7 linked regions of the Homo sapiens genome follow. The protein of the gene in region 1 purifies or fractionates together with the protein of each later gene. This does not show direct contact. Each region holds a gene or a part of one and is shown in the gene's direction. Other genes may lie near its edges. The genes, in order: SLC6A3, NDC1, RDH11, EXD2, DHCR24, SLC25A51 and GNPAT.

Region 1 (3,991 bases):
ACACACAGATCAGGGTGAGGAGGAGGCAGGCGCTCCCCTGTGACACCTGATCCAGCCTGCAGCTACCTGGCCAGGCAGGTGGCTGATGACCAGCATGGGAGCCACATCAGGGTATGAGCCTCTCCACCCACTGCCCACCCAGCCACTCTCGGCTTGGCTCCTCCCCTCATGCTGAAACACTGGCCACCTGCAGAGTCCTGACTGCGGGGCCTGGCCATCTGCCTCCAAACACACTGTCCCAGGAACTGGGGTTGCCTTGAGGCTCTGACATGCTGCCCAAAGGACAGAGGGCCCCGCCCCCTCTGCAGCACCCAGTTCCCTTGCTCAGTCAAGCTCAGGCAAGCTTGACCTGGGACCTGGGATGCCCTGAGACCCACCTGGCCTCCCCAGCAGGAGCATCTGGTGTCTCTGCCTCAGCATCCTGGCCCACAGGCCTGTACCATGGGCTCCAGGGACTTGCAGGAACAGCCCTAACTGACCAGTCCCTCAAATGCCTCCAAGGGGGGGTTGGCTGCTCCTTCTCCCCCATCCAAGGCCCAGGGAAGGGCAAGGTGGGCATCTGAGTCACTGAATGGTCTCCGCAGTGCCCTCACCTTAGCAGGTTGTGGCTGACTTTTTAAAATACCACAATGGTCCAATCGTGGACCCACCCACCTTTCCTTTCACGTCCAGAGTTGTGGGTGCCATCCACCGAGTTGGGCAGGCACAGCACCAGTGTCTAAGCTGCAGGTGGGCTCCTGGCCATGCCCAGGTGCCACTGTGCACCTGTACTGCTCATGTTTTGGGAAGGATACAAAGCAGGCATTGCTGGTGTGCGTCCAATCAGGACACCATCATCATGTAGCATGTGGATGGGTCCATGCCTTTCTGAGGGTTATCAGGGTGCTGCCATCATGCAGCATGTGGATGATCCATGCTGTTCTGAGGGTTGTCAGGGCGCCACCATCATGTAGCCTCAGGATGAGTTTATGTTGTTCTGAGGGTTATCAGGGTGCCGCCATCATGCAGCTTGTGGATGATCCATGATGTTCTGAGGGTTATCAGGAAGCCGCCATCATGTAGCCTGTGGTTGAGTCTGTGCTGTTCTGAGGGTTTCAGGGCACTGCCATCATGCAGCAGGGCGCACATGGGATGGGGGGACACACTCAGGGGGTTGTGAAGCTGGACCCTGATCAAGGGAGGATGGAGACCCCGCTAGGGCTGGTGTGAGTGTGGATAAGTCCATGCTGTTCTGAGGGTTATCAGGGCGCCGCGGTCATGTTGTGTGTGGATGAGTTCATGACTTTCTGAGGGTTATCAGGGTGCCACCATTATGCAGCATGTGGATGAATCTGTGCTGTTCCGAGGGTTGTTAGGACGCTGCGGTCATGTCATGTGTGGATGAGGCCGTGCTGTTCCGAGGGCTATTAGGACGCTGCGGTCATGTTGTGTGTGGATGAGTCCGTGCTCTTCTGAGGGCTATTAGGACGCTGCGGTCATGTTGTGTGTGGATGAGTCCGTGCTGTTCCGAGGGCTATTAGGACGCTGCGGTCATGCCGTGTGTGGATGAGTCCGTGCTGTTCTGAGGGCTATTAGGACGCTGAGGTCATGCTGTGTGTGGGTGAGTCCGTGCTGTTCTAAGGGTTATTAGGACACTGTGGTCATGTTTTGTGTAGATGAGGCCGTGCTGTTCCGAGGGTTATTAGGATGCTGTGGTCATGCCGTGTGTGGATGAGTCCATGCTGTTCTGAGGGCTATGGAGCAGGGCACCTCTGGTTCTGTGGAATCGCTGCCTTGATACTCCATGGGGAATCCCAGATCAATGAACACAGACAGCCCCCTGCTTCTCAGGCTCTTCCAGGCCGCTGGCCCGGGAGGGTTCACTTCCTGAGGCTGCATCTTCCACCAGTCGTCTGCTGCCATTTACTTCTTGAGGATGGTGTTGAGTTTAGAGGCCTCAGTGTGGGGCTGGGACAGGAAGGGTGCTCAGGTCCTTTGCCTGTGGCCTGCGTTCTCCTGGGACAGCCTCTCACCGCCCTCTGGCTCTGCAGGTTTGGATTGACGCGGCCACCCAGGTGTGCTTCTCCCTGGGCGTGGGGTTCGGGGTGCTGATCGCCTTCTCCAGCTACAACAAGTTCACCAACAACTGCTACAGGTGAGCCCCTAGCAGGGCCAGGCAGGGGCCTCATCAATACTAGGGAGAGGTCGCTGACTTCCAGAAATAGGGTGTCCCTGGATGAGAACAGGGCGGATCCACTGAACCCGCAAACCTGTGAGCTGCGTGGCCTTTCAGACAGAAGCGACAGCGAGGCAGCTCCCAACACGATTTTGATTTCAACTTTAAAGAAGGCACTGAAGCCAGTGGGTGTGTCGCCTCCTGGGAGGGACCTGCCTAGGTTTGACCTGCGGCCAGATTCCCCACTGAGGGCCCCAAGTGGCAAGGCCAGCCCCTCCCTCCACAAGGACACACCCTCTTCCCTCACACCAGCCCCGGGGGGTCTCTGTCCTCCCTCGCTCAGGGTCCAGCTTCACAACCCCCTGAGTGTGTCCCCCCATCCCATATGCACCCCGTGTTACTTACTGGCAGGCACCTGAAGCCCCGTGCCGGACCCCAAATCCTTCTAAAAACAGAAACAGAATTTTATCCGGGATCTGCTTGCTTTGACCTTTATGGACTTGTGCTTACTTTCTTTCACATCATGAGGCTAGAAACACGGTAAAAATACAAGGACAGTGTGTGCAGCAGAATGGCCAGGCAGACCACAAGCAGGCTTCACTGAGAGTGGGCGCTGGAAGGCAGGTCCTGAGGCAGCGCCTGCCCGCAGCCCACCTGCGTCCACCTGGGTCCAGGTGCTCTGCAGATGAAGTGTGTGGTCCTTCCACCCCAGTGACAGGCCACACAGGAACCCAGGAGGAGGACGCTGGTGCCCTGACCGACCCCAGGACCCTCCCTCTTCGTCCTCGGCTTGCCTCCAGCTCTCTGGTTTCTCAGCCCTCAGAGTGGGGCCCCCAGGCCCGCAGCACCAGCGCCCTTGGGAGTTCATGGGAAACACAGCCCCCGAGACCCCATGAGACCCGCCCAGTCAGGATCTGCATCTTAGCGAGGTCCCCGGGAGGTGTGTGCTCCTAGAGCTTCTGGAAGATCTGCCCTGGGTGAGGTGTCCACAGCAAGACTCGCGGGGCACAGGGGTGGCCGTCTGTTCTGCCCACCCTGAGCCTTGATGGCTGAGCCTTGAGCAGCTCAGCTAGGGGACCAAGGTGGCCCAAGGACAGCTCTGCCAGGCTGCTAAGGAGCTGGCCGTGCTCACTGGGAAAAGTAGCCCCTCCGAAGACCTCCCGCCCCCTTCCCCAGACACAGTAAATTAAGAATAATGACTGGAAAATTGCAGCTGCTGCAGCTCAGCTGGTTCCTGAGACGGCGTGTCTTGTTCTTACAGGGACGCGATTGTCACCACCTCCATCAACTCCCTGACGAGCTTCTCCTCCGGCTTCGTCGTCTTCTCCTTCCTGGGGTACATGGCACAGAAGCACAGTGTGCCCATCGGGGACGTGGCCAAGGACGGTGAGCCCCTCCTGCTGCACCTGGGCCTGCTCCGTGTAGCACCAGCGCCGAGCTCTCAGCAAAGCCTTTTTCCTTGTGAAAGAGGAAGGAGACGCATGGGCCCTGAGCGACTTCAGTGAGAGTTGCTGCCTCACTCTTGAAGGATGGTGGTACACATCCCAGTACAGACCTGCCCCCACCCAGCGCCTTCCCCGCCCTGACCCTCCAGGCCCCCCACCCAGCGCCTTCCCCGCCCTGCCCCTCCCGGCCCCCCACCCAGTGCCTTCTCCGCCCTGCCCCTCCAGGCCCCCCCACCCAGTGCCTTTCCTGCCTTGTGCCTCTCGGGGCCTCCACCCTGGGCTGGGGAACCTCAAGCCCAAATGCAGCTGAGCAGCATAGTTGGTGCCTCAGTCCCTCGACTGCTCCCTGCAGATGCCACATGAGGCTGCCCCACCAGGGTCTGGCGTAGAT
Region 2 (3,991 bases), on another chromosome or scaffold:
TTAGTTAAAACATCACTGTTTTCTTCAAAATTATCTACACCTGATGTTGTGAGCCCATTTGGGACCCCATTTGGCTCTAGTGTAATGAATCGGATGGCTGGAATTTTTGATGTAAACACCTGCTATGGGTCACCGCAAAGTCCTCAGCTAATAAGAAGGGGGCCAAGATTGTGGACATCAGCTTCTGGTGAGAATTATATATTTTTTAAGATTTTAAATGTCATGTTGCAGAGGATCAGACAGCCTAAGTTCTTATCTTGCCTTTTCTTTTTTAAAAATAGATCAGCAAATGACTGAATTTTCTAATCCTTCTCCATCTACCTCTATTAGTGCTGAGGGTAAGACAATGAGACAACCCAGTGTGATTTATTCATGGATTCAGAATAAACGTGAACAGGTAGGATGATATGGTTATAGGATTTATATTTGCATGTAAAATTGAGAACATTAAGGATCTCACATGAGTAAGTCATCAGGAATAAGAAGCTTTTTTTTTTTTTTTTTTATGCTTCGTGTATTGACTCAAATGAAACAGCCAATATTTGACTGGTTTGAGCTATACACATTGTAATTTCATATGACTTGACCTGATAACTTCATGTAAGAAATATTTGAGTTCTTTATATATCCAAGGTGTGCTTTTAGGCACTGGGAAAAAAGCAAACAAAACAGAGTCCTTGCCCATGTAATATTTACATTCGAGTGAGGGGAAATCAGTGAGTAAGCAAATGTATTATATTCTGTTTCTCTGAAATATAAAATATCATTAATTATAAGACTTATGTGCTATTAAGAAAAAAGATGCCTTAACCCATGACGTGCTATTGACTGTAAGATGCATCTCAACAGGTCATATTCAAGATATGGAAAACATGCATAAGAAGGAAGAAATTTGATATAAGTCTTAACTAGAAAAACAGAGCAAGGAAGACAGAGAGTTCCTAAGGGAGAGGGTATCATTTTATGTGGAGTGATAAGGGGAAGTCTCATTGATAAGGCAATGATTGATCAGAGACCTGAAGGGAGAGCTGGGAGCAGCCCAGTGCATCTGAGATGGGAATGGCCTTGGCTTGTGTGAAGAACAATGTGGATACCAGTGTGGCTGGAGCAGAGTGAGTGAGGGGAGAGTGGTAAGTGGGTGATAAGATCAGAAAGGTAGCAGGCACCCAGGGCTCATTGGCTGTAGTAAAGACTGGCTTCATCTCTGAGTGGGATGGAAAGTCACCGTATGGTCTTGCCCACAAGAATGATATGATGTAACTTATATTTTGAAAGTGCTGCTCTAGGGGCTGTGTTGGGACTAAACTCTTGCAAGGTAGGCATGTAAGCCCAGAGACGGTGTTAAGGTGTTAAGTAATCTAGTGGGAGATGGTGGTATCTGGGACCAGAGTGGTAGTGGTGGGGGCTGTAAGATGTGGTCAAGGTCTAGGTATGTATTTTAAGTTAGATGGAATAGGATTAGCTTATGGTTTGGTTGTGGTGTATACTAGAAAGAGTCAGTGTTCACTGGTAAGGTTTTTGGCCTGAAGATCTGGAATAATATAGTTGCAATTTATTGAGTTGGAATTTACTGATGATTCTGGAGAAGGAGATTTGATAGAGGTGAGGGGAGGGAAATCAGGAGTTTGATTTTGGACAAGCCAATTTTGAGATACCTATGAGACAACCAGGTGAAAATACTTAGTAAGAAATTAGGCATATAGCGGTAGTGTAGGGGAAAGTTCTGGGCTAGAAATGTAACTTTGGAAGTTTTCAGAGTATAGATAGTATTCAAAGCATGAGACTCGATGCAAACTCTTGAATGTAAATACAGAAGAAAAGAGATATCCAAGAAAGGGGCCCTCCAATGGCTAAAAGTTTGGGAGATAAAGAATAGCAACAGAGACTGAGGTGGGTAGAAATCCAAGAAAAGAAAGAGTTTCAAGGAGGAGAAGGTGGGAGTGTCAGATGCTGCTGATGGGTAGCATGGGGCGGGAACTAAGAATTAACTGTTGAGCTAGAAATGCGGAGGTCACTGAGTCCTTGACAAGAGCTGTTGGCTGGAGTAGTGGGGACAAAAAAATGCATGAGTTCAGGAGAGATTGGTAGACGAATTGGAGACCACAAGAAAAACCACATTTTTCAAGGAATTTGTTGTAAGTGGAACAGAAAAATGGGGCAATAGCTGGGAGGAATTGAGGGGTCAAGGAACTTTTTTAAAAATTTTGAGATGGGTTCTTGGTCTGTCTGTTGCTCAGGCTGGAGTGCAGTGGTATGATCATGGCTACACTGCAGCCTTGAACTCCCGGGCTCAAGTGATCCTCCCACCTCAGCCTCCTGAGTAGCTGGGACTACAGGTGCCTGCCACCATGCCTGCCTAATTTTTTTAATTTTTATTTTTTGTAGAGACACAGTCTCTATGTTGCCCAGGCTGATCTCAAACTCTTGGCCTCAAGCAGTCATCCTGCCTGAGCCTCATAAAGTGTTGGAATTACAGGCGCGAGCCACCACGCCCAGTCATGTTTTTATTTTTTAAGATGGGAGAAATTATAACATGTTTGCTGATGGAATGACTGATTAATAGGGAATGAATGGTTAAAGGCATTTCATAAACTTCGGGATCCCATACGGCTCTATATGCCATTAGTACTGCCGTGTCACTTTCTACCCAACCAGACACGTGCTGCTTGCTGCAGCCTTCTGACTAGTCATGCAGCTTTGGGTGAGAGTATGGTAGGAGCAGATTCACTTTTAAGTTAGTTGGGTTAGCTTTTAGCTGATACTAAGAACACTTTTTCCCCCGGAATTGTCAACTAGTAGAAAACTACTTTGTGTCTTAAGATATTTTTTTTCCTGTAATCTCAGCACTTTGGGATGCCACAGTGGGAACATTGCTTGAGCCCGGGAATTCGAGACCAGCATGGGCAACATGGCAAAACCCCATCTCTACTAAAAATACAAAAATTAGCTGGGTGTGGTGGTGCATTCCTGTAGTCCTAGCTACTTGGGAGGCTGAGGTAGGAGAATCACCTGAGCCCAGAAAGCAGAGGTTGCAGTGAGCTATGAATGTGCCACTGCACTCCAGCATGGGTGATAGAGTGAGACCCTGTCTCAAAAAAAAAAAGATTTTTTTTTCCCTGTGAGAGAAACATACTCTTTTTTTGGGTATTAAAAGGTTAAAGGGCAGGACAGTTATAGAGAATCGAGAAATAATGTGGCCTTGAAAAATATCTCCAGTCTGTAATCCTAGCACTTTGGGAGGCTGAGGTGAGAGGATTGCTTGAGTCCAGGAGTTTGAGACCAGCCTGGGCAAGATGGTGAGACCCTGTCTGTACAAAAACATTTAAAAATTAACCGGACATGGTGGTGTGCCTGTATTCCCAGCTACCCAGGAGGCTGAGGTGGGAGGATCTGTTGAGCCCAGAAATTTGAGGTGGCAGTAAGCTGTGATCATAAAACTGCACTCCAGCCTAGGTGACAAAGCGAGACCCTGTTTCTGAAATAAAAAAGAAAAAAGAAAAAAGAAAAAAATTTCACCAAAACCACTTAGAATTAATTAATTTTTTTTTATGTCAGGGCTCTAATTTGGGGGTTAAACGTGTATACATGGGAATACAGTTTAGTTGGCTCATCTTGGTTGTCCAATTTGTAGCACAAAGGTATTTAGTTACATGGCGTATTGTTTAAGTATTATTATTCTTTGCCCACAAGATGTGAAGTGTTTCATTTTTTCATTTAAGTTACTGTCTGGAAGAACTAGGAAATGTGTTATATTTGAATAGAATTTAAAAGGTAAATGTGTTAATTCTTCCTTTTTTCCAACTCAGATTAAGAATTTCTTGTCAAAACGGGTGCTGATAATGTATTTTTTCAGTAAGGTAAGAATATGTGGTTATAGCGTTGGGAATGGGGAGGGAGGAAATGAAATATGAAATAAAGTAGCAGATAGGATCTGACTTGTAAATATTTTATAGCTTAATCCTAGCAAGCTAGGCAGCTTTGCATAGTGCTT
Region 3 (3,991 bases), on another chromosome or scaffold:
ACCAGCAGTCTATGAGTATTCTAATTTCTTCACATCCTCAGCAACACTTGTTATTGTCTCTCCTTTTGAGTTTAGCCATCCTAGTGAGTATGAAGGAATATCTTGTTTTTATTTTCATTTCATTTTCCTACTAATGATGTTGAACATTCTTTCATGCGCTTTTTGGTTCATTTGTTTCTTTGTTGGGGAAATGTCTATCAAGTCCTTTGCCCATTTTTAAGTTGGATAATTGTCTTTTTATTGTTGAGTTACAAGAGTTCTTAATAGTCTAGATGCGAGTTCCTTGTCAGATATATAATTTGCAAATATTCTCTCATTCTGTGGGTTGTCTTTTAACTTTCTTAATGGTATCTTTTGAAATGTAAAACTTAAATTTTGATGAAGTCCAGTTTATCTATTTTTTGTCACTTGTGCAGTCATATCTAAGAAATCATTGCCTTACCCAAGGTCACAAAGATTTACTACTGTCTTTAGTAAAGACAGTTTTCTGTTACTAAACAGAATACCACAGACTGGGTAATTTCTAAAGAAATTTACTTAGCTCATGGTTCCGGAGGCTGAGAAGTCTAAGAACATGGTGCCTGGCATTTGGTTAGGGCCTTCTTGCTGTGTCATAATATGGCAGAGGGCATCACATGGTGAGAGGGCAAGCAAGAACAAACCCACTCCCATGATAGTGACATTAATCCAGGTATGAGGGCAAAGCTTTTATTAATTAATCTGTTCATGAAGGCAGAGGGACTAAGTTTCCAACATGTGATTTTTTAAGGGATACATTCAAACTATAGCAACCCCTATGTTTTCTTCTAATAGTCTTATAGTTGTAGCATTACATAGGTCTGTGATCTGTTTTGAACTATTTTTATTTTATTTTATAATTATTATTTTTTTGAGACGGAATCTTGCTCTGTGACCCAGGCTGCTCACTGCAACCTCCGCCTCCTGGGTTCAAGCAATTCTCCTGTCTCAGCCTCCCGAGTAGCTGGGACTACAGGTGCACACCACCATGCCTGGCTAATTTTTGTATTTTTAGTAGAGATGGGGTTTTGCCACGTAGGTCAGGCTGGTCTCCAACTCCTGACTTCAAGTGATCCCCCTCCTCGGCCTCCCAAAGTGCTGGGATTATAGGCATGAGCCACCACACCCGGCCTTGAACTAATTTTTGTATATGATATGAGGTAGGGGTCAACCTTCATTCTTTTGCATGTGGATATCCAGTGCCTTAGCACCATTTGTTGAAAAGACAGTTTTCTACCCATTGAATTGTCTTGGTATCTGTATTAGTCTGTTAAGGCTGCCATAGCAGAATCCCACAGACTGGGTGGCTTAAACAATATAAATTTATTTTCTCACACTTCTGGAGACTGAAAGTCCAAGATCAAGGTGCTGGCCTGGTTGGTCTCTGGTGAGGCCTGCCTTCCTGACTTCCAAATGGATGCCTTCTCTCTGAGCCCTCGCATGGCCTTTCCTCTATGTACACACACTCCTGGTGTCTCTTCCTCTTTTTATAAGGCCCTGTTGGATTAGGGCCCCGCCCTGATGACCTCATTTAACCTTAGTTACCTCCTTAAAGGCCCTCTCTCTAAATACAGTCACACTGGGGGTTAGGGATTCAACATATTAATTTTGGGGGAACACAATTGGAGTATAACAGTAAGCTTGTCAAAAATCAATTGACCATAAATATAAGGGTTTATGTTTCACTTTTCTGTTCCGTTCATTTGTATGTCTGTCCTTATGCCAGTATCACACTATCTTGATTACTATAGCATTGTAGTAAGTTTTGAAATTAGTTTATCTTTTACCTATACTAATTCTTAGCAAAATCCCCCTGGAAATGTCAATACTGTGACCATGCTGATGCCATAGGCACACTTAACTAGCTCTTACTTGGCTGGGCGCGGCGGCTCACGCCTGTAATCCCTGCACTTTGGGAGGCTGAGGTGGGCAAACTACTTGAGCCCAGGAGTTCAAGACCAGCCTAGGCAACATAATGAGACCCCATCTCTATAAAAAATGCAAAAATTAGCCAGGCGTGGTGGCGTGTCCCTGTGGTCCTGGCTACTTGGGAGGCTGAGATAGGAGGATCACCTGAGCCTGGGGAGGTTGTAGTGAGCTGCGATCACACCACTGCACTCCAGCCTGGGCAACAGTGAGACCCTGTCTAAAAAAAACAACCAGAAAGCTCTTGCTGTAGTATTTGATTAGTTTTTATAGCCTACAAGGAACCTTCATGTCAACTGTGTTCTTTGCTCTTAACTGTAACCTTATGAAGAGTATAAGGCACAGTGCAGTGGAGGATGCAGAGGCTTACAAAGGCTGAGTCATTTCCAGAGAGATACAGAGCCTTGTGGTTCTCACTGATGATCTTTTCACTAGGAAATGGCAAGTTGTACTGGTCATACTGGTGAGTCTTCTTAAACAGAAGTACTGATAAGACTTGTTTTGTAAACGTGACGATATTTTGAAATGGTATTTCTCAAACTTTAGTGTGTTCAAGAGTCATCTGGAAAACTAGTTGAAAATAGATTCCTGGACCACAACCCTAGAGATTCTCATTCAGTATGTCTGGAGTAGGGCTGGAGAATTTCTAACAAGCTCCCAGTTGATGCTCCTGCTGCTGGTTTGTGGTGCACACTTTGAATCCCACTGTCTTACTTGACATAGTGTTAAGAGTTTGCATATATAGTTAATTCAGACTTGTCAACTCTTTCACCTTCAGAATTTGCTTAGATACTGAGGAAGCAATTTTCTTGAAATAGTATACTTTTAAAAATTGTTTCCTCACATGACTAAAGATTGTAATACATTCAATCATTTTTTTTAAAACTTTGACTGAATGCTTACCAGATGTATACCAGATCCAGAGAATACAAAAATGAGTCAGAATTGTCCTTAAGAAAATTTTCTGCATCGGAATTATAAAATTATAAAACTTGGAATTACAGGCTGGGTGCAGTGGCTCATGCCTGTAATCCCAGCACTTTGGGAGGCCGAGGCAGGTGGATCACTTGAGGTCAGGAGTTCGAGACCAGCCTGGCCAACATGGCAAAACCCTGTCTCTACTAAAAATACAAAAATTAGCCAGTCATGGTGGCAGGCGCCTATAATCCCAGCTACTCTGGAGGCTGAGGCAGGAGAATTGCTCAAACCTGGGAGGCGGAGGTTGCAGTGAGCTGAGATCGCATCACTGCACTCCAGCCTGGGCGACAGAGTGAGACTCCGCCTCCAAAAAAAAAAAAAAAACTTGGAATTAATTACAGCAATGAAGAGAGGGTATATGAAACACTTTGCTATGATTTGAATGTGTCCCTCAAGGTTCATATGTTGGAAACTTAAGCCTCAATACAACAGTATAGAGAGGCAGGGCCTTTAAGAGGTAAATTAGGTCACAAGGGCAGCCCTCATGAATGGTTTAATGCCATTATCTCTGGAACGGGTTCATTATCTTGGGAGTGGTTCCTTATTAAAGGATGACTTGTGTCCCCTTCCCTCTCTTGCCCATGTCATGCCTTCCATCTTGTTATTACACAGCAAGAAGGCCTTCATCAGATGCCAGCCCCTTGATCTTGGACTTCTCAGCTTCCATAATCATAAGCCAGTTTCTGTATGCTCATTATAGTTACCCAGTTTGTCGTATTCTGTTACAGTACCACAAAATGGACCAAGACACCTCGTACCTTGGTTTTACCATTTCTTTTCTGTGTCGCCTTTTCCTTTTGTTGTTTTCGAAGCTGGCTTTACTTCTCATATGAGTTTACTAACAGTATAACTTCAAGGAGTCCAGAAATAAGCATTTCTTTTTTTTTTTTACTACTCCAGGCATCTCTGACCAATGTGAATAGCAGGATCTCAGCTATATGACATTGTCCAAGGCTCTGTAGAATGGGCCTTATGGACTTACTTGAAGAAGATGGATATACATGGGTGTCAGGCAGGCACTAATATTAAATTATATAAATAGGGGAATATAAAGACCAAATGTATGCAT
Region 4 (4,590 bases), on another chromosome or scaffold:
AAATTGTTTTTTGTTGTTTTTGTTTTCGAGACAGGGTCTAGCTCTGTCACCTATGCTGGACTGCAGTGGTGTGATCACAACTCACTGCAGCCTCAAACTCCAGGGATCAAGACGTCCTCCTGCCTAAGCTTCTGGAGTAGCTGGGACTACAGGTGCACACCATGATGCCCAGCACTTTGGGAGGCCGAGGTGGGAGGATCGCTTGAGGCCAGGAGTTCAAGACCAGCCTGGGCAACACAGTGAAAATCCCTAAAGTGCTGGGATGACACGTTGAGCCACTGTGCCCCAGCTAGGGGTGAAATTGTTGGAACAAAGTCTTTTCACATATTCAGATTCAGTTGATACCGCCAAACAGTTAAACAAAGTGATTGCATCAATTTATGTTCCCTTCAGGAGCATATGAGAGTTGTGGTTGCTCCACAATCTTGCCAATACTTGACATTTTCTTTTTCATTTAGCTATATCTCATTGTGGTTTTAATTTGCATTTCCTCTTTATCCTTTGTTTTTTAAGTGTTTCAAGATGGAGCAGATAAAAATTCAGGGAGTTAATCCTCTATAATAGCTGGAAATTTCCCCCATGGGTACTCATTCAATGGAATTTAAAACATTTGCCCCTGTATTGAAGGCAATATAGTATAAAGGATGGGGCCACATGCTCTGCAATCAGAAATATGAGGTTTGATTCCTAACTCCGGTGCTTACTTGCTGAATTACCTTGAGGAAGTTATTTAACCTTTTTCTATTTTATGTAAAACGGCACTAATAATAGTACTGCCTCACAGGGTTGTTATGGGGATTAAAGGAGAAAAAATAAGTAAAATGCTTTGCAAAGTTCCTAGCAACAGGTGAGCACAAAGTCAACAAATGGTAGCTATTATTATACCTTATATTGGTTATTTATGCACATCTCATTTCTCCTTCTGTTTTACACATTCCATGAGAAAGGAAAAGCATGCATGTAGCACAGATTAACTGCCTCACATATAATTGCTAATAAAGACTGATTGGATGAACGATTTAATATATAAACAAAAAGTATTGTGGTTATCGCTATAAAAGATGGCATAGGTTGGGCATTCACGCCTGTAATCCCAGCACTTTGGGAGGCCGAGTTGTGAGGTTCGCTTGAGCCCAGGAGTTCGAGACCAGCCTAGGCAATGTAGGGAGACAGTATCTACAAAAAAAAAAAAAAAAAAAAAAAAGGAGGGTACATAAAATTATTATAGTGGCTATAGGATAATGTGCACTGCTAATGAAGACTACATTATTTAAATACAGTGTCTTTCCTTCTATTTACTGTTATCGTTTAGCAGAAAAACAGTACGCAGGATACTAAAGAAGGAAAATTCGATGTCCCATATTACATTTGTGAGAGTTCTGGAGGTTTCTCCCTTCAAAGCCAAAACCAAAACACAAACATACCATCCCAGTAACAAATGCGTCACTTTTCTGAAGAAGACGTTAAGCCCTTCCAATTTTAACAGATCCTTTGTTCAACAGAGGAGAGAGACTGGGTAGGCATCACCTGCCCCAGTAGCTTCCGTACAAAATGGCGTTGCCCGTTCCCACACGCCAGCTGGGATTACGTCCTCCAGGCCTGTCGCAGGAACGGAAGTGGTTACGGCCCTAGTGAATCCGGGTGGGTGCGCGCAGGCGGCCGCACAGGTTCCAGGTCTTTAACGTGAGCCCGCTGCAGGTGTGCGGCCCAGTCCGAGACAGCAGGTAAGTGAGGCTCAGAAGCCGGCGAAGCCTTGCACCAGGATTGTGCGCGGGGCAGGGGGTGCTTCCAGTGCAGACTAAGAGGGGTCGTGGAGCGGGGGGATATTACCGTGTACGGGGGTGACATTGCGGGGCCCCCGCTGTCCCGGAGCGAGTTGGCCCTGCCCCTCTCCCCGCCCCTCGGCGTGACCCCCTCGCCCCCGTCGCACACGGCGGGGCGGTTCAGCACCCAGGTGCGCAAGGAGGGCCTCACCCCTGCCCGCGGCCTCCCACGCCCTCCTTGGGCCTCTCCTTTCGACCCCCTTACCCTCTCCCTGGGAGACTCTACCAGACCTTCGAGGCTGCGTGTCCCAGTCAGCTAAAAAGGAGGCCCCGCCCGCGGCACCTGGTAGCTCCTCGGGCGCTGCGGGTTCGACGCGGCAACAGCTGCTGTTTTCTCTCCTGGATTCGTGTGAGCCGCCACCCTCGCTACCATCCCTGTCCTCCCAGACCACACCCTGCTCTGGGCCTTGCCGGGAGCCACCTCTTTGGCTTTTCACATCCCTGGGATGGATCAAAACTAAGAACCTTAATCATTATTTATTACAAAATTGACATCTGCTCCTTAAAATACAAACAAACCAATCCCCCGATAAGCTTTTGATATGATTCCAACATTCAAACTCCTTTATATACCCTCTCCTCAAAAACACAAAATTGAAATTATACTTTATTTTCTTAGTTCTGTTCCAAGGATAGAAGGAATTGAAAGGTTTTGTTAATCATAGGAATTAGGAAGTGCGGGTTGGGGCGCAGCGGGGAAGATGGATTAAATTTGGTCAAGTTGAGCTTGTTTTAAAAATGTATTTTTAAAATATTCTAGTTATAGTCCGTGCATAAAGCCTTGTAACAAAATTATGTAAAAATTTTAAACACAGATCTTTCTTAGCTTGATGTTCTTGGTGGTGAGGGTGGGGAGTGTGGAAGACAGATCCTCTTTGATTTTGTTTTTTTCCATCTCCACCTTCTTTACCAGTCCCTTTCCCACAAAATAAGAACTGTTGTCAGTTTGTGTGTATTTTTCTTTGCATTTATTTGACAAGTATGTGTACGTATAAGATATATGTTTGTAAGATTTCGCTTTAAACTTTTACAAATATGCATGTTTTATGCATTACACAACTTGACGTTTTATGCTTAAAAACGGGTCTTGGAATTTTTTCTTTGTCAGTACCTAGAGATCTACCTATTCTTTCTACTTGCTCTGTAAATTCCATGGTTATGTAAGATTCCATAGATTGTTTCCAGTTTTTCATTGTTAGACACAGTATGGCGGAGAACATCCTTCCCACACACCTCTGTGAGAGCCCATGTGAGAGCATTTCTCAAGGATGGGTACCTGCAGGTGGAATTGCTGGGTGGGAGAGTATGGGGATTTAGGAATGCCAAACTGCCACCCACGGTGGATAATAATTTCCTCCATTCTCTCTCTCTTTTTTTTTTTTTTTTGAGACAGAGTCTTGCTCTGTTGCCCAGGTTGGAGTGCAGTGGCGTGATCTCAGCTCACTGCAGCCTCTGCCTCCCAGGTTCAAGCGATTCTCCTGCCTCAGCCTCCCGAGTAGCTGGTATTACAGGCACCCGCTACCACGCCTGGCTAATTTTTGTATTTTTAGTAGAGACGGGGTTTCACCGTATTTGCCAGGCTGGTCTCAAACTCCTAAACTCGAGTGATCCGCCTGCCTTGGCCTCCCGAAGTGATGGGATTACAGGCGTGAGCCACCGTGTCTGGCCCACCATGCTCTTTTGATCATTTAATGGTATCGATCTTTTTTGTTTTTGCCAATCTGATGGATGGAAAAGTGATTTCTCTTTGCTGTTTTAATTTGCATTCCCCTGATTACTATTGAGATTGAACATCTTCATGATTGTCAGCCATTTGTATTTCCTCTTTTGAGAAACATCTCTTTCTATTGGATTGTCTTTTCCTTATTGATTTATAATAGTATTTTATATGTTCTGGATTTTGATCTTTTGTTATTCATATGTGTTTATAATATTTACTCCCTGCTTATTGCTTTTTTAAGTTGTTGCTTGTCTTTTAACTATATGGCATCTTTGTTGAAACAAAGTTTAAAATTTTAGGTTTTAATTTATCAGTCTGTTATGTGTGTGTTTGTATTTTGTGGCTATCATTCCCAATCCGAGTGGTTCTTAAATGGCAGAGATTTTTGCTCTCGGGGTTATTTGGCAATGTCTGTAAACATTTTTTGTTTGTTCCACTAGGATGGTGCTGCTATTGGTTATCTAGTGAGTAAAAGCGAGGGTGCTGCTAAACATCCTACAGCGCACGGGAAAGCTTCCCACAACAAAGAATTTCACCAGCCAAAAATGTCAGTTGTGCTGAAGTTGAAAAATCCTTCTCTACTTTTAGAGAGAGGAGGGTTTTCTCCTAAAGCTCTGTTTTCTCCTTGAAGTTCTTCTTGTGGGAATAGTTTTTTTTCTTTAATTCCTCTGGAATTGTGTGTGTGTGATTGTTGTTTTCCAAATACTGTCACCTCGAACAGTCAGTCCATTCTTTTTTTTTTTTTTGAGTCAGAGTCTCGCTGTGTCGCCCAGGCTGGAGTGCAGTGGCGCGATCTCAGCTCACTGCAACCTCTGCCTCCCGAGTTCATGCCATTCTCCTGCCTCAGCCTCCCAAGTAGCTGGGACTACAGGCGCCCACCACCTCGCTTGGCTAATTTTTTGTATTTTTAGTAGAGATGGGGTTTCACCGTGTTTGCTAGGATGGTCTCGATCTCCTGACCTCGTGATCCACCTGCCTCGGCCTCCCAAAGTGCTGGGATTACAGGTGTGAGCCACCGCGCCCGGCCTAGTCAGTCCATTCTTGAAC
Region 5 (3,500 bases), on another chromosome or scaffold:
GACTGGAGTACAGTGGTACGATCACAGCTCACTGTAGCCTTGAACTCCAGGGCTCAAGCAATCCTCCTGCCTTAGCCTCCTAAGTAGCTGGGACTACAGGCGTGTGCCACCATGTCCAGTTAAAAATTTTTTTTTTTTTTTTGAGATGGAGTCTCACTCCGTCGCTCAGGCTGGAGTGCAGCGCGTGATCTCAGCTCACTGCAACCTCTGTCTCCCAGGTTCACACGATTCTCATGCCTCAGCCTCGTAAGTAGCTGGGATTACAGGCATGCACCACCATGCCTGCCTAATTTTTGTATTTTTAGTAGAAATGGAGTTCACCGTGTTGGCTAGGCTGGTCTCGAACTCCTGACCTCAGGTGATCTGCCTGCCTTGGCCTCCCAAGCCAAGTGCTGGGATTACAGGTGCGAGCCACTGTGCCCGGCCTGGTTAATTTTTTAATTTTTAAAATTTTTTTGTAGGGATGGGGTCTTGCTATGTTGCCAAGGCTAGTCTTGAACTCCTGGCCTCAAGCAGTCTTCCCACCTCAGCCTCCCAAAGTACTGGGATTACAGGTGTGAGCCACCACACCCAGCCGAGACCTATTTCTCTGTGTGTGTGTGTGTGTATATGTATGTGTGCATGTCTTCATTTCATTCTGTAATATCCCATTTTTGCATGTAAATAATTGGCCTAATTTAGCCCTTACTGACATTTATGTTGCATAAACTGTTTTGCTCTTACAAATAAGATTGCATTGAAGATTTAAGACTCACATTTATCCTGTCCTTCTGTACAAATATTTGTGTAGGATTGAGTCAGAAAAATGGACTTTGTTACACAAAGGTTTGAGCACATTAAATATTAATAGATATGACCAAACAGCCCTCGAGAAGAGCTGTGTTTATGCCTACTTGTAGTAATGGTCTGTGAGAACACCTTTTTCCCTACATTCTTGCCAACACTAAATAGGATCACTCTTTCATTTTTGCCAATCTGATAGCGTTAAAAATAGTATCTCGTTTTATTTTGCAGTTCTTGGATCACTTGTGAGGGTGAGCCTCTCTTTGCAGCATTTTGCAGTTTGTTTGTCTTCAGCAGTGATCACTTGGTTCACATTTGTCTTTTCTTGTTTATTGTTTTTTGTTTTGAGACAAGGTCTCACTCTGTCACCCAGACTGGAGTGCAATGGTGCGATCTTGGCTCACTGCAACCTCCACCTCCCAGGCTCAAGCAATTCTCCTGTCTCAGCCTCCCGAGTAGCTGGGAATACAGGCGCATGCCACTGCACCTGGCTGATTTTGGTATTTTTAGTAGAGACGGGGTTTCGCCATGTTGCCCAGGTTGGTCTTGAACTTCTGAGCTCAGGTGATCGCCTGCCTCGGCCTCCCAAAATGCTGGGATTACAGGCGTGACCCACTGCACCCAGCCTTTTTCTTGTTTATTGTGATAAGCATTTCCCCCTGTTGTTACATTGCCTTCATAACCGTCATTGTTAATATCCATCTTTTATTAGAACTATTACATTGCCTTCATAACCATCACTGTTAATGTCCATTCTTATTAGAATTAAAGAATCCCAATTAGAATGGCCAACCTTGCATTGCACCTTGCACTGAGGAAATGAATGCCCTATTGCTGCCCATAGTTGGAAATTTAAGTTGCTTCCAATTTTTTTATTACTTTAATTAATGGAGCAATGAACATCTTTTGTCTGTAATTTGAGTAATATCTTTTGTTTTTTTTTGAGACAGAGTCTCGCTCTGTCACCCAGGCTGGAGTGCAGTGGCGGGATCTCGGCTCACTGCAAGCTCCACCTCCCAGGTTCACGCCATTCTCCTGCCTCAGCCTCCCAAGTAGCTGGGACTACAGGCGCCCACCACCACGCCCGGCTAATTTTTTGTATTTTTAGTAGAGATGGGGTTTCACTGTGTTAGCCAGGATTGTCTCGATCTCCTGACCTCGTGATCCACCCACCTCGGCCTCCCAAAGTGTTGGGATTACGGGCGTGAGCCACTGCGCCCGGCCAATTGGAGTAATATCTTAACATAAAATCGCAGATCAAAGGATAGGCATCCCTTAAGACTCTTAATCTATACCTATATACATACTTAAAACATTTTAAAGTTGTGAAGGGCTATAAAATCATCCGGTACAATCCTCTCTACAAATAAGGAAATGAGGCCCAGAAAGGGAAAGAGACTTCTCTGAAGACACACAGCTAGCACAGAACAGATTTAAATTCCAGCTTCTGACTCCTGGTTCAGTGTCGGTTCCCTGACATATCAGCCTGCAGACTTTAGCACTATGCAAACATTGCTCCCTGTGGGACACTGCGGTAAGTGCTGGAGGTCCTGGAACAGCGGTGGCAATACCGGACATTGAGCTGAAGTGCTCTGGCCCTCCTGGGCCCCTGGATCTGCCTGAGGCCAAAGCTCAGACAGTGTGTGTCACCTAGCACCAAGTCACCTAGCAAGGACATCTAGACCAGAGCTTTCCAGCTGCTCTGAGGTGTTCCCTTGAGGCTCTCAGGGGTAGGAAAGCTGAGGAGGGATGGGACCAAGGGGAGTCACCACCCCCACTGTACCCAAAGTGGCTCTGCTGCCATCCATTTGATGTATTAGATGCTCCCTAAGATTATGATTTGGCAGAGGGGTTTGCCCAGCTTTTGAAATATTTGGAGACCTGATCTGATTCCCTTATTTCCCAAGGAGAAGACTGTGAGGCACAGAGAGCCTTACCCAAAGGCCCTCCCAGAATCAGCAGCAGAGGGATATTTGCCAAGTGCCCCAGTGAGCAAGACCCTGATACCTGAGGGAACAGGGCTGGGGCAGAGTGGTGGATGCCATTAGACATCTGGGCATTTCATTTTAGAAGCATTGCTTCCAAACATTTCTGTTTCTAAGCATTCAGGAATTTGTCCCTGTGTGCCAGGCCCTGTGATGGGCCCTCTGCAGGCACTGCCCCGTGTAAACATTGCTGCAATCCTGTGAGAAGCAGCCTACCCCCATTTCACAGAGGAGGCCCAGAGATAGGAAGTGGCTTGCAGTCAAGGGCTGGGGTGGACTGGAGCTCATGCAGCCACCTGGCCTCCTCAGCTGGTGTGTGCCTGGAAAAGACAGACTATCTGGGTTCTTTCCCATGTCCTGGGCTTCTCTGCATGGCTCCTGATGCATCAGTGAGCACCAGGAGCGCCTGTATCCAGGTGGCCCTAAGTCTCACTTTCATTATGCAGCTGCTGCCACTGCCAGGTATGTGACACACCTCACCTGGGGTTAGATCAGGTTGCTCTGTTTCCTGCTGGGTTCCCCTGTTCACATTAGCAGGCAGAGGCCAGCGTGAGTGTTTTTTGCGCTGCCCCATACCATCCACACCAAAACTAATTTGGGCAAAGAGGCTCTTTAGCCCCAGTTTCCTCCCTGCAGAGTGGCCTCACCAGCAGGGTGGCCTTACCAGCAGGGTGGGCCTGCACAAGCGGGTGGCACACAGATAAGCTGCAAGTGCTGGAGGCCAGAGATCCA
Region 6 (3,991 bases), on another chromosome or scaffold:
TGCCTGTAATCCCAGCTACTTGGGAGGCTGAGGCAGGAGAATCGCTTGAACCCAGGAGGTGGAGGTTGCGGTGAGCCAAGATTGCGCCACTGCACTCCAGCCTGGGCAACAGAGTGAGACTCTGTCTCAAAAAAAAAATTTTTTTTTTAAACTAGGTGAGCATGGTGGCTGATGCCTGTAGTCCCCTTTGGGAGGCCAAGGCTGGCAGATGATGTGAGCCCAAGGAGTTTGAGACCAGCCTGGGCAACGTAGAGAAACCCTGTCTCTACAAAACATACAAAAATTAGCTGGGCTTGGTGGTGCGGGCCTGTGGTCCCAGGTACTCAGATGGCTGAGGTGGAAGGATTGCTTGAGCCCAGGAGGTCAAGGCTGCAGTAAGTGCAGTGAACTGCGAGGTAGCCACTGCATTCAGCCCAGGTGACAGAGCAAAACTCTGTCTCAAAAAAACAAAACAAAACTGAGAAATAGTAAGATTGGTAATTCACAAGCTGCTGCTTTGCTAGGAGTGGTAAGGTTATAAATTAGATAAACTGATAACCCTGCTCAAGAAAAAAGGGAACATAAGTACACAGGTTAGAAGTAATTTTTTAAAACAGCAAGTGTTGGATGGGTGCAGTGGCTTGTAAATCCCAGCACTTTGGGAGGCCAAGGCAGGAGTTCAAGACCAGCCTGGGCAACATAGCAAGGCCCCCTCTCTGCTAAAAAAATGTTTTTTAAAAGTTAGCCAAGCATGGTGGCATGCGCCTGTGGTCCTAGCTACTCAGGAGACTGAGGCCCCAGGGGTCCAGGCTGCAGTGAGCCATGATCGTACCACCGTACTCCAGTCTGGGTGACAGAACAAGACCCTGTCATTTTTTTTTTTTTTTCTGGATAGAGTCTTGCTGTGTCGCCCAGGCTGGAGTGCAGTGCTGTGATCTTGGTTTACTGCAACCTCTGCCTCCCGGGTTCAAGCAATTCTCCTGCCTCAGCCTCCCAGGTAGCTGGGACTACAGGTGCGTGCCACGATGCCTGGCTAAATTTTGGATTTTTCGTAGAGATGGGGTTTCACCGTGTTAGCCAGGATGGTCTCGATTTCCTGACCTCATTCATGATTCGCCTGCCTTGGCCTCCCAAAGTGATGGGATTACAGGCGTGAGCCACCACACCTGGCCAAGATCCTGTCTTTAAAAATAAAAATAGGCTGGGAGCAGTGGCTCATGCCTGTCATCCCAACACTTTGGGAGGCCAGGGTGGGAGGAACACTTGAGCCCAGGAGTTTGAGACCACCGTTGACAACATAGTGAGACCCTGTCTCTACAAAAAAAAAAAAAAAAAAAAAAAAAAAAAAGGCTATATAAATTAAACCAGAATTTTTTTTTTTTTAAGGAAATCCAGTTATCAAAATTGACTCAAGAAGAGAGAACCTAACAGAACAATAACAATGGAAGAAATTGGGAACATTATCACAAAGCTATCATCCTGCCAAACTCCAGGCTCAGATGTCACAGGTGAATGCAATTAAACTTCAAGGAACACATCATTTTGATAAGATTTAAATTGTTCTACAGTATGATGGGGGTGGGGGGGCGGGGAATCACATATTCTTTTTACAAAGCCAGTGGAACATTGACACTGGCACTTGATGTGAAGATAGTATTAAAACTGAAAACTTATCTGAGTGCCAAGGCTTATGCCCATAATCCCAACACTTTGGGAGGCTGAGGCAGGAGGATTGCTTGAGCCAAGGAGCTTCAGACCAGCCTGGGCAACACAGAGTGACCCTGTCTCTACAAAAAAGTGAAAAATTAGCCAGGCATGGTGGCGCACGTGTGTGGTCCCAGCTGGGAGAATTGCTTAAGTCTAGGAGCTTGAGGCTGCAGTGAGCCATGATTGTACCACTGCACTCCAGCCTGGGTGACAGAGTGAGACCCTGTCTTGTAAAAGAAGAAAAAAAAAATGACAACATGATCTGTTATGAACAGTAATATGAAATTTTAAAATATTAGTAAATGGAAGTTAGCAGTATGATGAAAGAATATTTCACCACGGCCAAGTAGCATTTATCCACATATTGCAAGAGTGAGTAATCACCAAGAAATATGCTAACATAATACACCAAATGAATAAGTCAGAAAAGATAGAAAAGAATAATAAAATAGCTTGCCCTTGTTGAGTTCCTACTGTACACTAGACTGCTGTCCTGGGCACTTTACATGTTGTTAGCTCAGTTAATTGAGCTAGTCTATGAGGTAGTTAATAGCCACGTTTTATAAAGAGAATAAGCTATAGAGTGACTTGTCAAAGGTCACACAGTACATGTGTGGTGGAGCTAGGATTTAAGTAGGTAATTAGTAGGTTCCAGAGGCTGTACTCTTAAATATTACACTGGCTGTCTCCAGTGTTTGTATGATCATCTCAGGAGCTTTCTAAAAGCATTTGACCAAAGTTTAAGATAGACTCTTGAGTTATTGGCGGTGGGAAGGTGTGGAGGTGATTGAACTTCAGTACAACAATAATAAATGTATATTTCCTTCCCATGTTTGAAAATTCTCTCAGTTTGACTTATCAGTTGACTAGAAAAATGAAATTCATTTTTATTTTATTTATTTATTTATTTTTGAGACAGAGTCTTGCTGTGTCGCCCAGGCTGCAGTGCAGTGGTACAATCTTGGCTCACTGCAACCTTGCCTCCTGGGTTCCGGCAATTCTCCTGCCTCAGCCTCCCAAGTAGCTGAGATGACAGGTGCATGCCACCATGCCCGGCTAATTTTTTTTTTTTTTGAGATGGAGTTTCACTCTTGTTGCCCAGGCTGGAGTGCAATGGCATAATCTCAACTCACTGCAACCTCCGCCTCCGAGGTTCAAGCAATTCTCCTGCCTCAGCCTCCCGAATAGCTAGGATTACAGGCATGCGCCACCACGCCTGGCTAATTTTGTATTTTTAGTAGAGACAGGATTTCTCCATGTTGGTCAGGCTGGTCTTGAACTCCTGACCTCAGGTGATCCACCCGTCTCAGCCTCCCAAAGTGCTGGGATTACAGGCGTGAGCCACCGCACCCGGCCACCCCCGGCTAATTTTTGTATTTTTAGTACAGATAGGGTTTTGCCATGTTGGCCAGGTTGGTCTTGAACTTCTGACCTCAAGTGATCTGCCTGCTTCGGCCTCCCAGAGTGCTGGGATTACAGGTGTAAACTACTGCTCCTGGCCTGGAATCCATTTTTAATGGGAAGCACAATTTCATAGTTAATAGTTGGGGGCAGGAGCTTAAGTTATAATTGCAGCTCCACTAATTCTTAGAATGAATATAGATTGAAGTCTTGGGGTTTTTGGCATGATTTGTGAGATGAAATTATGTGATAGCAGAAGGAAGGCCTCCTGCACTTCATGTTTACAGTAGAGTCCTACAGATGGGCAGGGGTAGATGATAAATAGGGAGGAGGGATACTTGAGTGGAATAAATCATATATGACTCAGCTGATCAGTGAACGTTTCTGTGTCTTGATGATTTGTTTCCCTGTGTAAACTTGAAAACTGCTAGGACCTGGATTATGAACACTCAGATGACAAGAACTTCCTGTTTAAAACCGAAAGCCAACTTAATGATAATCCCTAGGAGAGTTCCCACAGGTGTCAAGAAAAATATAAGAACTATAATTATATATATATGTAATTATATATAGGGATTATAATTATAATTTATTATAATCCTTTATTATAATTTAATTTTGTTCAGGAAGTATTTATCAGTTCAATAAGAAGAAAGAATTACACATATTATAAAAGAGAAGGCAAAATTTTTTGCAAGTGATCTTTTACATGGTGGAAACTAAAACGTTCACCAAAAAACTGAGACATAGTAAGAATTCAGTAAGTTAGCTGGTTCTAACCTTAATACCCAAGAATTGTTAGTTGTTTTCTTATGCAAACGAAAACTAGTTAGAAAACTGATGGAAGTAAATAGCCTATGAATAATAATAATCAGGCAGGGCAAAGTGGCTCATGTCTGTAATC
Region 7 (3,991 bases), on another chromosome or scaffold:
CTTCCATCCCTAAGCTGTGGTGTCTATTTCAGGGCTGGCCCCACCACCCATTCTGTTGCCCAAAACAAAACTGAACCATCACCCTGCCCTGCCCTTCTCTTTAGCACCTGTCATTACCCTTGTTTGGCTCTGTACCATCTCTGGCTTGAACTATTTCCATAGGTTTACGGTTATACTTCCTTTCATGGCTGTGTTTCCTGAAATTCATCCCTCTTACCAGTCCCTTGATTCCTCTATTTTCCCTTGGTTCTGCCCTCTGCCCTCTGCCCTTTCTTCCTGTCCAGCTGTTATTAGGATTATCTGAGTAACTGTTTCACCAACCCTTAATTCTCCTTTGCAATCTTTCCTTCCAGACTGACCAGGAAAAAAAGCAGCCTGGAATCTGCCAACTCACCTTCTCTGTTCCTATAACCAGGTGTCTGGCTGCTCCTGGGAGAGTGGGTGAGTTATACAGATCCACATTCTGCAGCCTCAGGATCCCTTCTTCCATCTGTCCCTTTTAGTCCAGTCTCAGAGAAAAGGCGCCTGCTCTCCTGGTCACAGCTAGCCACACCCCTGTGGTCGGAAGTCATCCCGTCCAGCCTCTTCTGAGACCTTTGGCATGCATCTGCTCCCTTTCCTCTATCTTCAGCCTTTCTCTCAGGGGACTTCTTCTATTTGGTCTATAAACAGGTCCGAGGCTTTAACACCACTGAGCTGTATACTTAAAAATGGTTAAAATGGCATATTTTATGTTATGTGTATTTTAATGCAATTTTTTTTTTTTTTTTTTTTTTTTTTTGAGACAGAGTCTCGCTCTGTCGCCCCGGCTGGAGGCAGTGGCTCTATCTTGGCTCACTGCAAGCTCCGCCTCCCAGGTTTACATCATTCTCCTGCCTCAGCCTCCCGAGTAGCTGGGACTATAGTCACCCACCACCACACCCAGCTAATTTTTTTTTTTTCTATTCTTTAGTAGAGACGGGGTTTCACCGTGTTAGCCAGGATGGTCTCAATCTCCTGACCTCGTGATCCACCTGCCTCGGCCTCCCAAAGTGCTGGGATTACAGGCATGAGCCACCACGCCCAGCCAACACAATTTTTTAAAAGTGGAATGCTAATTAATAAAAACAAAAAAACAGGTCCAGGACTTTTGCATCTAGGGAGAGCATTTTTTGCTTTAATTCATATCATCCCTTTACTTCTCATTCAAACTTTCCCATTATTCTGTGGCCACTGTCTTTAGTTCCTCAGCAGTTCATTTAGTCTTCAGTCCATTCAGTATGAGTTCTCTTCTGACTATATTTATAAACTTTTTTTTTTTTTTGGCACAATCACTGTTTCAGGTAACCTGAGTAAAACAAAGGAACACAGGTAAGAGGAAAGAGTTTATCCCAGTTCCTCCCTGTTGAACTGAGCCCCCCAAAAGATAGGATATGCAGCAAGATAGAGATGGTGGTTGCACAACATTTGTGAATGTACAAAATACCACTGAATAGTTCACTTTAAAATGATTAATTTGGCCGGGTGTGGTGGCTCACGCCTGTAATCCCAGCAATTTTGGAGGCTGAGGCGGGCGGATCACCTGAGGTCGGGAGTTCAAGACCAGCCTGACCAACATGGAGAAACCCCGTCTCTCCTAAAAATACAAAATTAGCTGGGCATGGTGGCACATGCCTGTAATCCCAGCTACTCGGGAGGCTAAGGCAGGAGAATCGCTTGAACCCGGGAAGCAGAGGTTGCGGTGAGCCGAGATTGCACCATTGTACTCCAGCCTGGGCAACAAGAGCGAAACTCCGTCTCAAAAAAAAAAAAAAAAGGTTAATTTTATAGTGTGTGAATTTCACCTCAATGAAAAAAAAGGGTAAGATACTTCTTCACTACATGTAATTGGGGTGCCAACACCTGTCCTCTGAGCTTCTGAGCTCATCCTAAAGCAAAGCACTCTCCTTTGGGAAGCATAAGGATTACTTATCCTACAGACTTCATTTCAAAGTGCTTGTTTAGGGGACAATGAAAATGGGCAAATCAGGGCTTCCTCAAGGATAGAAACTGACTTGCTCATCTCCAGGCCCTTGACAGTCCCAGCACACAGCAAACATTTTATTTTCTTTACAAAAGAGCTAGAGGGCCATGTGAATAAAATAAGTTCCGTTGTGAGATTCTTTATTTCACTAATTATCCTTTGATAGCTTGGGACTTTGTGTGCCTGTGACTTGATAGATCTGATGTAGTCTGAGTCGGTAATTTCAATGTGATCTTGTATATTACCTTGTAATAGCATTGAGCCAGCTGGTGGAGCACTGCAGCAATACACTGAGAGAAGCCACTATTTGCTAGGACACTAGACCATGGGCAGCAACTTATTTTAGAGTTTGGATATAAACTTATTAACAAACCAAATGGAAAGGTGAAGTGTTTTCTTCACTCTAAAATGCTATCCTAGAAAGCCATTTTTCTTTTAATTTCTGGCCTTTAAACTTCTTTAAATAGGCTCATTTATCTACTATGACTGTGTTGGGAAGTTGTCAATTAAGAAGACACTATCTTTGAGTTATAGAAGATTAATCCATTTGGAACTAGTCATACTGGTTTGAGTAAAGCTTTCTGACTTTTCTGTTATTGTTGTTAGAAATTATTCCTGCTTTTCCTTTCCTTTTAGCTTTCCAAGGAATCCCTTCAATCTGTGGATGTCCTCCGAGAGGAAGTGAGTGAGATCTTAGATGAAATGAGTCACAAACTGCGTCTTGGAGCCATTCGGTTTTGTGCCTTCACCCTGAGCAAAGTATTTAAACAAATTTTCTCGAAGGTGTGTGTAAATGAAGAAGGTATTCAGAAAGTGAGTATTGATTATTAAAAAAATAAAGAAATAAAAGTCTCATCTTAAAATTAAACAAAAAAAAAAACAGTCTCTTTTTCAACCCCTCACAATTTAATCAACTCAAGGACAGCTCACTTGGTCAATCAAAAGCCTAGGGCCTAATCATCAGGCCTCCAGTCTAGGCAGAAGAGGATGTGCATCTCTGAAGGTTGTTTTCTGTTTTTTTGTTTCCTTTTAACTGCAGACCTACAGGCTTCAGACTAACTTAGTCAAGTAAGACTTATAGACTAACTTAATGCCAGATATTCAGTAACGTTACAAAAGAAATACAAAGAATTCCTGTATATACTTCACCTAGATTCCCTTACAGCATTTCCTTTATCCTTTTCCTAATACTCTGCTGTGTTTTTCCTATAATTAAGGGCATTATCTTATGGTACAAGTATCAAAATAAGGAAATTAACATTGAACAAATACTAGTAATACTGACCTGACTCATATTTCACCAGTTGTCCCAGTCATGTCCTGTCTAGCTAAAGAAAATCGTAGCTCATGTGTTGCGCTAGAAATCCTAGAAAGTGTTCAACTTTCTTCTGTATCCACTTCCATATTAGACTCTTTTAATCTAAAATAATTCCTTAGTATCTGTATTTGTGTTTCATGCTAATTTTTTTTTTTTTTAAAGAACAGGCTAATTATTTTGAAGTGTGAAATGGTTTGAATTTGAGTGATGTTATCTCAGTATTGGGCTCGGGTTGTGTACCTTTGCTAGGAACACCCCGGAAGCGATGCATTCTTCTCAGTGGGTCGTGTCAGCAATGCATGGTGCCTGTCGGTTTCATTACTGGAGATGTTTCACTTCCATCAGTTGGTTATCGTTATGACTGCCAGGTTTCTCTGCTGTAAAGTTATTATTTTTTCCCTTTATAATTAATGAATATCTTGTGAAAAGACTCTTTGAAAATGGCTAAATACCCTGTTTTGCATCATACTTTACCCCACTCGTTTTTGCACCCACTGATGATTTTTGCCTGAATTAATTATTATGTTAATGATTGCCAAATGATGACTTTTCTAATTTCATAAAGAGCTTTCCTTATGAAGAGTATTTTTACTTATTTGTGTTTTATATTTTTTTCTTCTAGGAAAGCTCTTAACTTCACTTGCCTTCCTCCTCATCCCTTTTAATATTTT

The links.
Region 2: the proteins of SLC6A3 (region 1) and NDC1 purify together in Homo sapiens (affinity purification with mass spectrometry; one large-scale study listed by BioGRID and IntAct). This does not show direct contact.
Region 3: the proteins of SLC6A3 (region 1) and RDH11 purify together in Homo sapiens (affinity purification with mass spectrometry; one large-scale study listed by BioGRID and IntAct). This does not show direct contact.
Region 4: the proteins of SLC6A3 (region 1) and EXD2 purify together in Homo sapiens (affinity purification with mass spectrometry; one large-scale study listed by BioGRID and IntAct). This does not show direct contact.
Region 5: the proteins of SLC6A3 (region 1) and DHCR24 purify together in Homo sapiens (affinity purification with mass spectrometry; one large-scale study listed by BioGRID and IntAct). This does not show direct contact.
Region 6: the proteins of SLC6A3 (region 1) and SLC25A51 purify together in Homo sapiens (affinity purification with mass spectrometry; one large-scale study listed by BioGRID and IntAct). This does not show direct contact.
Region 7: the proteins of SLC6A3 (region 1) and GNPAT purify together in Homo sapiens (affinity purification with mass spectrometry; one large-scale study listed by BioGRID and IntAct). This does not show direct contact.

The regions. Positions count from the first base shown.
Region 1 is NC_000005.10:1,414,241-1,418,231, reverse strand, and holds part of SLC6A3 (sodium-dependent dopamine transporter), read left to right. Parts: intron 1-2,030; coding exon 2,031-2,134; intron 2,135-3,416; coding exon 3,417-3,541; intron 3,542-3,991. UniProt on the Homo sapiens protein: Mediates sodium- and chloride-dependent transport of dopamine. Also mediates sodium- and chloride-dependent transport of norepinephrine (also known as noradrenaline). Regulator of light-dependent retinal hyaloid vessel regression, downstream of OPN5 signaling.
Region 2 is NC_000001.11:53,793,095-53,797,085, reverse strand, and holds part of NDC1 (nucleoporin NDC1), read left to right. Parts: coding exon 1-187; intron 188-281; coding exon 282-397; intron 398-3,806; coding exon 3,807-3,857; intron 3,858-3,991. UniProt on the Homo sapiens protein: Component of the nuclear pore complex (NPC), which plays a key role in de novo assembly and insertion of NPC in the nuclear envelope.
Region 3 is NC_000014.9:67,678,660-67,682,650, reverse strand, and holds part of RDH11 (retinol dehydrogenase 11), read left to right. Parts: intron 1-3,991. UniProt on the Homo sapiens protein: Retinol dehydrogenase with a clear preference for NADP. Displays high activity towards 9-cis, 11-cis and all-trans-retinol, and to a lesser extent on 13-cis-retinol.
Region 4 is NC_000014.9:69,189,868-69,194,457, forward strand, and holds the start of EXD2 (exonuclease 3'-5' domain-containing protein 2), read left to right. Parts: upstream 1-1,630; 5' UTR 1,631-1,724; intron 1,725-1,903; exon of another isoform or gene 1,904-2,172; intron 2,173-4,590. UniProt on the Homo sapiens protein: Exonuclease that has both 3'-5' exoribonuclease and exodeoxyribonuclease activities, depending on the divalent metal cation used as cofactor.
Region 5 is NC_000001.11:54,866,696-54,870,195, reverse strand, and holds part of DHCR24 (delta(24)-sterol reductase precursor), read left to right. Parts: intron 1-3,500. UniProt on the Homo sapiens protein: Catalyzes the reduction of the delta-24 double bond of sterol intermediates during cholesterol biosynthesis.
Region 6 is NC_000009.12:37,897,325-37,901,315, reverse strand, and holds part of SLC25A51 (mitochondrial nicotinamide adenine dinucleotide transporter SLC25A51), read left to right. Parts: intron 1-1,365; 5' UTR 1,366-1,487; intron 1,488-3,991. UniProt on the Homo sapiens protein: Mitochondrial membrane carrier protein that mediates the import of NAD(+) into mitochondria. Mitochondrial NAD(+) is required for glycolysis and mitochondrial respiration.
Region 7 is NC_000001.11:231,257,869-231,261,859, forward strand, and holds part of GNPAT (dihydroxyacetone phosphate acyltransferase), read left to right. Parts: intron 1-2,638; coding exon 2,639-2,815; intron 2,816-3,991. UniProt on the Homo sapiens protein: Dihydroxyacetonephosphate acyltransferase catalyzing the first step in the biosynthesis of plasmalogens, a subset of phospholipids that differ from other glycerolipids by having an alkyl chain attached through a vinyl ether linkage at the sn-1 position of the glycerol backbone, and which unique physical properties have an impact on various aspects of cell signaling and membrane biology.